2 linked regions of the Homo sapiens genome follow. The protein of the gene in region 2 purifies or fractionates together with the protein of the main gene of each other region. This does not show direct contact. Each region holds a gene or a part of one and is shown on either strand. Other genes may lie near its edges.

Region 1 (3,824 bases), on a different chromosome or scaffold from region 2:
ATCGTCTGAACCACAGGGAAGCATAGATTAGATTTCTTTTAACACCTCTAATTATGCAGTAACTCAGTTCTCTCTCAGTAGCAATATGCAAAGCATGACTGATACGTCTGTTATTTCAGCAGCACTTAACCCTCCATTTATAGAAGTGGATTGGAATTTCTAGACCTCTGGAATCTGATTCTGTAAATGTTCTCACCTCAGGCCAGGGGCCAAGGCTAACCAGTATTTTGTGACACCCTGTGCTTGGCACTAAGCAGGCACTATAGATTTTTGTGACTAAAGACTGCATACTTAACTAGTCACTATTTTATGCATTGAGAATTATAAAGTGTGTCATTCTGAAATATTAGAATTGATTTTTTTTAAAGTAAAAAAAAAAAATCCTTTCCTTTGTATGTTAAAGTATTACTAATGAGCCTTCCTGTCTGTTTTTCCTCCATCTACTCTAGTATGCCGAGATTTTGCTGTCCTGGAGGACCACACCCTGGCTCACAGCCTGCAGGAACAAGAGAGTGAGTAATACCTCTCATTTATGCTCCTTCAGTTTTCTTTTTTTAGTGGTAGCTTGAGGCTGGTTTCTTAGGGCTTAGGTGGGGAGAGAGCACAGTCACTTGGCTTCACCATCCATACATCCTGAAGGATTTCTTTAGGCAAATGATGCCTGGGTGATCAGTGAAGTTTCGGGCATGTTAAGTAAGATAGGCTGCCAGGAATTAGTAGACTGCTGCGTCTGTAGGAGGAAAAAGAGAGGTTTGAACCTTTTTCCTAGCCTCTTGTTGTAGGAGGGACACAATGGTTGTAGATTTATCTGGGGTGCGTAGAAGGAATCTATTCTTGCTCCTAGGATAGGGACTTGAACAGTTTTCCCAGGCAACTGTGGTATAAATGAGATCACATTGTGAATTTTTCTGAATCTTTTTTTCCATGTGGTGATGAAAAGTAAATCTAAGCTATGCATGTTATATTAAAGTACATACTTGTGAATATATGATTTGTGAATTCACATATCAATATAAAATTGACATTTTGAAAAATGCGGTTAATAAATAGAGTGACAACATGTAGTAGTAGAAAGAGCATTGGCCCTGGCTTTAGAATATTTGTGTAGATGTCCTGGCACTGCCACTTTGTTGCCGTGTGACCAAAGGCAAATTATTTAATCTTTTTGATCCTCTTTTTACTTAATGGAAAAGTGGGGATAATAATTCCTTGCTCTTTATTATATATTGTTGTTGAGACAATAAAATGAAGTGATGGATGCAAAGCTGTTGTTATGGTAAAGCTCTTAAGATTATTATGGCATTTATTACTAACAAACCAAGACATTATTCATTCCTGTCCTCAATCTTTTTGTTCCAGTTGAGCATCATTTGGCATCGAACGTTCAGCGGAACCGTTTGGTCCAGCATGATCTCCAGGTGGCTAAGCAGCTCCAAGAGGAAGATCTGAAAGCGCAGGCCCAGCTCCAGAAGCGCTACAAAGACCTGTGAGGATTTGGGAGGTGGGAGGGGTGATGCAAGACTGGTTTTCTCTGTGGAGCTAGCAACCAGGGCAGGGGAGAAGGAGACTACTTCTGTTCCTCTGATTCCTTCTACTGTTAGATTACAAATCTTACCCTGGATGTCTAACAGTTTTTTTGATTTGAAAATGTTTTGTTTTTGTTGGAGCACTTGACCAGGTTTAAGGACATGTTGATGATGGTGTGAATTTTAACATTTTTTAGCTGTTATGACCTTGGGCCAGTTAGTCAACTTCTCTGAATTTATTTTCCTTACCCATAACATGCGGATAATAATCTCTGTCCCCTCTGCCTCATAGTTTCTTTGGGGGATCCAGTGAAATAGTGGACATCAAATAACTTTATGGGTTGTATTGGTTCCTTTACTATGTTCTAGCTGTGTTTGCCGCTCTTACTTTCCTTGCTTTTCAGTACATAGCAGAATGTTCTGAAAAGCTCTGAAGTGTAGACTCAGTTTTTTTCATAACTTCAGTGTCTGACAAAAGTTCTCTCTAGTAGCCTCCTTTAACACACAGATAAACGGAAATGATTATTTCTCAGGTTTCTTTTGGCACAGTGACTTTTATTCTGTTTCAGTGTTATAAAGCTCCCAGGATACATTTCTTCTTTGAGAGTGGCTCTTACATCCTAAATCTTTAATGTGGGTAGATTTAACCACAGATACTGTGTTGAGGAGGAAGGGGTAAAGGAAAAATGGAAGGAACCCCTTAATTTACTTCAGTGTCATATTCAGGTAAAAAGGAAAGCCAGTCATTTTTGCTAACTTATAGGAAGGGTTTGTCTTTCTGTTTATTATTTGTAGAGAGGACTTTATTAATCATTTTGTTAAGCTTCCCTTATTTTGTAAATAAACACTTTTATTGATTCATGCTAAATCTGGCACCATGAAAGGAGACCAGAGATATGAATAAGACAGCTGTTGCCTTTAAGGGCCTCAGGAAAACACCTTGAGCATTGTGTATCTAGAGATACGTGCATGAGTCACAGAGAATTGAAATGTAAATTTCAGGCCTATTTAGAGAGAAGAGACTGGGAAAAGCTTCACAAGACGATGTGTTTAATCTGAAACTTGAAGGTTAATTAGAAGTTTATAGTGATGGGGAAAACCATTCTAGCCAGAAGGAGCAGCATGCATAAGGGCAGGAGGTAAGAGGACTTGGAATCAATCTCACGTTAGCTGCAAGAAGTTCAGTGTTGCTGGAGTGGAGAGTGTATTTACAGGCAGAAGTAGGAAGTGAGGCCAGGAAAGTAGTCAAAAGCTGGATCAAAAGGGTCACGATAAGTTATGTTAAAGATTTCAGGTTTTGTAGATTTTAAATTATAAGGAATGGAGAACCTTTGAAGTAGTTTCAGATTTTCATTTTGGGATCTATTCTGTAGACTAGGTGGGTAAAGGCTTGGAGTGGGCAAGATTTGAAGGCAGCTGTTGAGCAATGGTCAAATTAAGAGATGGTGAGGCTTGAATGAGGACAGTGGTGACAGAGAGGAAGGAGATGATGAGGCCTAAATTGAAGGTCATGGTAATGGAGATGTAAAGAGGAGGAGAGATATTTGAGATGTTATGAGGCTCAGTGTCACAGGTTAAGGTGAGAACCAAAGCTAGAATGTTCTAGAGTTCTAAATTCATTGCCCTTTACATTATTCACAATTCTCTGTTAGAAAGGCCAGTTCTGAGGTTGATGCAGATGTTTAAAATCCTGAATTAGGTTAATAACAGTATAATGAGCTTTTTCAGAAATTATCAAGACAAACCACTCAAATATAAATCAGGAGTAGAGAGTGATATTTTATAGGTCCTAAAGGAGAGAAGAACCGGGTATTATATTTCTGCCTGAGACTTCAAGGTTTTGAAATTGTTCCTGGATGAAATAAGTAAGCTAGAAGGGAAGTCTTTCAGTTCACTCCCTGGCAATTTTAATAGCTGTACATCTTGGGAAGGATGAAATGCTGCAGTTTTCATTGAACTGGAACCTTTTATTCAGTCTGGATACCCGGGCTGCCGTAAGTCAGGATTACCGCTTGTTTACTACTGCTTTCTCAGTTTCGCTTTCCCAGGAGTCTGTATAATTAGCTGACTGAACCAGAGATGGTACTTCTTGGAAATATGGTTTGAAATCATTAAACTCAGATGAAGCTTCACTTATTTATTTTCTGTACCAGGAGATACATCTTCTGTGTCACTTGTGACCTTTAACACTTCATTTGGGTTTGCCTTCTCTACGGTGCTTCTACTTTCTTCCCACTTATTATCACATCCAATGTAGTTATTAGTCAATTAATTCTATACAGATTTTACATTAATTTG
Region 2 (3,824 bases):
CTGACAGCAGAGTAATGAATGATTCAGGGAGTATGCACTTTTTTCTTCCATCAATGTATGCCCTACTAAAGATGTTTTTTACTGAACTTGAACTAGTTTTGTTGCAACTGACCTGACATTTTCTCTGCATTCTCTTTAACTGTGTTGATGTCATTTTGTAAGGAGGTAATGAGTTTAGCATGTCGTTCACTCCCTACATTCTTGTACTCCTCCCAATATTCCTTTTCACTGAGTTTCTCAAGAAATAGTTTCTCAGCATTACTTATTTGCATGCGCATATCTGTTGAAAATAAAGACACTGTGTCATTTCTGTTTTCCTTGTAACCATTATATGTTGCAATCTGGTTTTAAGAAGTTAAGATCTGATATTAAAATACTGTTAACTCATAAATACTATTTTATATCTAAAATTTAGGAAATTCTAAACTATTCAAACTGTTGTTTATCTATCTCCCCTGATTCAAAATCTAAGCAAAATTAAACTTCTGACTACAAAGTAGATGTGTGGTTTGAGGGTTGATTGAAAGACGTAATAGACAACCCATATGCCTAGGAAGCTGCAAGTTTACATCATTCCTGATAAGGGTCCTATTTTGTACAGTGTATCATATAATATGTATAATATGTATTCTTTATTAGGAAATTGTCATTTTTCTGGCCATTATACCCTCTGAGCAAAAGTGATTTCAACTTGTGTCCTTCCCAGGTCCTTGGCAACCATTTTTGTAAGTAAATTGTTTGATTCAGTCATCTAAAGTTCATTTATTTGGATTTCTCTTGTATGAAATGATAGCCTCTGATAGTCATAATAACATGTCTTTTCCCACCCCCCTTTGGTAAAACCAGAGTGATGGGCAAGTTCCCCAGTTAAATGTGTACAAATACTGAACTATTTCAGGGATATAAACTTTGTTTGCTAAACATGATATTCTATTCAATCTTTAGGCCGAATATCATGTTGCTGAATATTTTTGAAAAAGAAGCATTACAAAAGAGTCAAGTACAACAAACTTAATGGCTGTTTATCTCATCACCATATATCACCTTGTTTGAGAGTTCTTTGAAGGAAAGACTACATTATATTCATCTCTGTAAATCCAGCACTTAGCACAGAGCCTGGCAATTAGTTGGCGCTCAATAAATGTCTGTTGAATGACTGAAGCATTTCAATCAGGCCAGGGTGATATTCTTCAGTCCAGAGGTCCAGAAGGACTCAGGACTCATCTTTTTCCAAAGATGTACACAAGATACTAATTTTTTTTTTTTGAGATGGAGTTTTGCTCTGTCACTCAGACTGGAGAGCAGTGGCGCGATCTCGGCTCACTGCAACCTCCACCTCCCAGGTTCAAGTGATTCTCCTGCCTCAGTCTCCCAAGTAGCTGAGATCACAGGCACCCACCACCACGTCCGGCTAATTTTGTATTTTTAGTAGAGACAGGGTTTCATTCACTATGTTGGCCAGGCTGGTCTCGAACTCCTGACCTCAGGCAATCTGCCCGCCTTGGCATCCCAAAGTGCTAGGATTACAGGTATGAGTCACCATGCCTGGCCACAAGATACTATATTTAAAATCTCTTAACAAATGGTGGTTATTTTCATTAAACAATTATCAGTACTACTATAAGCCAGATGGGTAGTTGTTCTCTCATTCGAGCAGACTGCTACTGTCTCAGGCCAGTGCCCCATTTGGCCTTTGAGGGGAGGGTTGGTAGATGTCACTGAAGATTGTAAAAGGGAGATGGATGTAGTGGCTGTTTTTCTACTTTCTTAGAACTTCTTCCCTTCCCTTCTAGTAACACATACGCCCCAGAGATTTTTGTTTGTTTGTTTAAGCTGAGATCTGACAGCATGTGAAGCCTTGTATCCAGGTCAGAAGCACTCTGTCTTTCTGTGTTAAGTGATGTGAAAAGACTAACATCCCCTTTATGCTTAGGCTAGTTTGACTTGGATTTTTTATCCTTGCAACTGAAAGAGTCCTTACTAAAAGTTGGATGAAAAGGGTTGCAGCAGTATTTCTCAAACCTTACTGTGCATAGGAATCCCCTGGGATCTTGTCAGAATGCGGATTCTGATTCAGTAGGTCTGGGTGGGGCCTGGGAATTGGCATTGTAACAAGCTGATAGGTGAAGCACTTGCTGCTGCTCCACACCAAAATGAGTTGCAAGGGACTACCTGGGACATAAAGTGACTACCTCGGAAATGTTTTCCAGACACTTCTGTTCTCTTACTTTCCCTCTCTTCCTCCATGTCTGTGAGCTTCCTTTCTTCCCATGCATGTCCAGTCCTCCTCTATTGTGCTCAGTCATGCCGTGTGGCCCAGTCTTGTATGACACATCCCCATGCTCAGCCCAAACCATCAACAGGCGCATCTCAACTAACTGGGCCCATTCCTTTAGAAGGCAGTTTAGCGAGCACAGCTGAGCATCCTTTGGGGTCTCACTCCATCTCAAGGGACTTACTAAAGTATTCCTTCCAAATATAAGCAGAACTCTTTTGGAAAGAAGTCATGCAAAATATACTATCTACCATGTCATGACATCCCTATTGCCAATGAAGAGACTTGGGTAGGAGGAGGTCTATGGGAACAGTTTTGGACTCCCCTAAAAATGAAACTTGCCTATTGATGTTTGGTCTTGGAAACGATTTCACTCAAAACAGCAAATATCTATTGAGTGGAGAGCCTGCTGTGTGCAAAGTGCTCAGCTAAGTAGGCACTTGGAGAAATCCAGAAATACGTGGATTTCCTAAGGGCTAACAAATGATAGCACTTAGGTCTCTTTCTCATGTTTTCCAGCTTCCTAGCAGGGATGTTATTTATGGAGGTTTTGGCAAAAGTGGTCCTAGAAATCTTAGCAGCAAGTTTAGAATGAAAGAATAGGAATTTCAAAATGTGTATGTCAGAACTGCATGATTTACCCTCAGTACCATGGTATTTCCTAAGCCTACAGCAAGAGTATGCCCTGGGTCTTTCATTGCCTGCACCTAGTGTCATTACTACCCATGTTCTCCAAACTTCCCCTTTCCCAACGCTAATCCCTATTTCCTCCATCTAATGGGGTGCTTGGCTCCCTTAGAGATATTGGGAGAAACATTTTTCATGGTTTTATTTGCCTTATCATTCCCAAATCTAAGCTGAAGCTGAAGTCAATGAAACCACCAAACAACAGAATTAAAAAAAAAAAGAAAAAAAAGAAAAAGAACAAAACCCTACTATGAGTAATGGTGTTTAACAAGATACTGTCCTGTTGTAAGAGTCAGATGAGGCTGGGCATGGTGGCTCACGCCTGTAATCCCAGAACTTTGGGAGACTGAGGTGGGACTATCCCTTGAGCCCAGGAGTTCGAGACCAGCCTGGGCAACATAGCAAGACCTCATCTCTACAAAAAAGGAACAAAATTCTCAGGCATAGTGGTGTGCACCTGGAGTCCCAGCTACTTGGGAGGCTGAGGTGGGAGGACTGCATGAGCCCAGGAGGTTAAGATTGCAGTAAGCTGAGATCGCACCACTGCACTCCAGCCTGGGTGACTGAACTACACCCTATCCCAAAAAAAACAGTCAGATAAATTTCATCTGTTTCTGATCACTACCCTTCTTCCACCTCCTTGCTTGGCTTCATTACCTCTACCCACTTTATTATTTCCCTCTCCTGCCCATTTACCTACATGTGTTTGTGGCTGCGGTGGTAATGATGCCGTTTAAAATACACTTAACAGCATTTTGAACATATTGGAAGAATAAAGCATTAATATATTCAAGAAATAACTTGGCACAACTCTATGATAGTTTTCTATGTTCCTAAATCACCTCTCAAGTTTTTTTCCTGG

The links.
Region 1: the proteins of CCDC83 (region 2) and CCDC50 purify together in Homo sapiens (affinity purification with mass spectrometry; one large-scale study listed by BioGRID and IntAct). This does not show direct contact.

Annotation. Positions count from the first base shown.
Region 1 is NC_000003.12:191,356,639-191,360,462, forward strand, and holds part of CCDC50 (coiled-coil domain-containing protein 50 long isoform), read left to right. Parts: intron 1-449; coding exon 450-512; intron 513-1,359; coding exon 1,360-1,486; intron 1,487-3,824.
Region 2 is NC_000011.10:85,882,656-85,886,479, reverse strand, and holds part of CCDC83 (coiled-coil domain-containing protein 83), read right to left. Parts: coding exon 3,805-3,824; intron 281-3,804; coding exon 113-280; intron 1-112.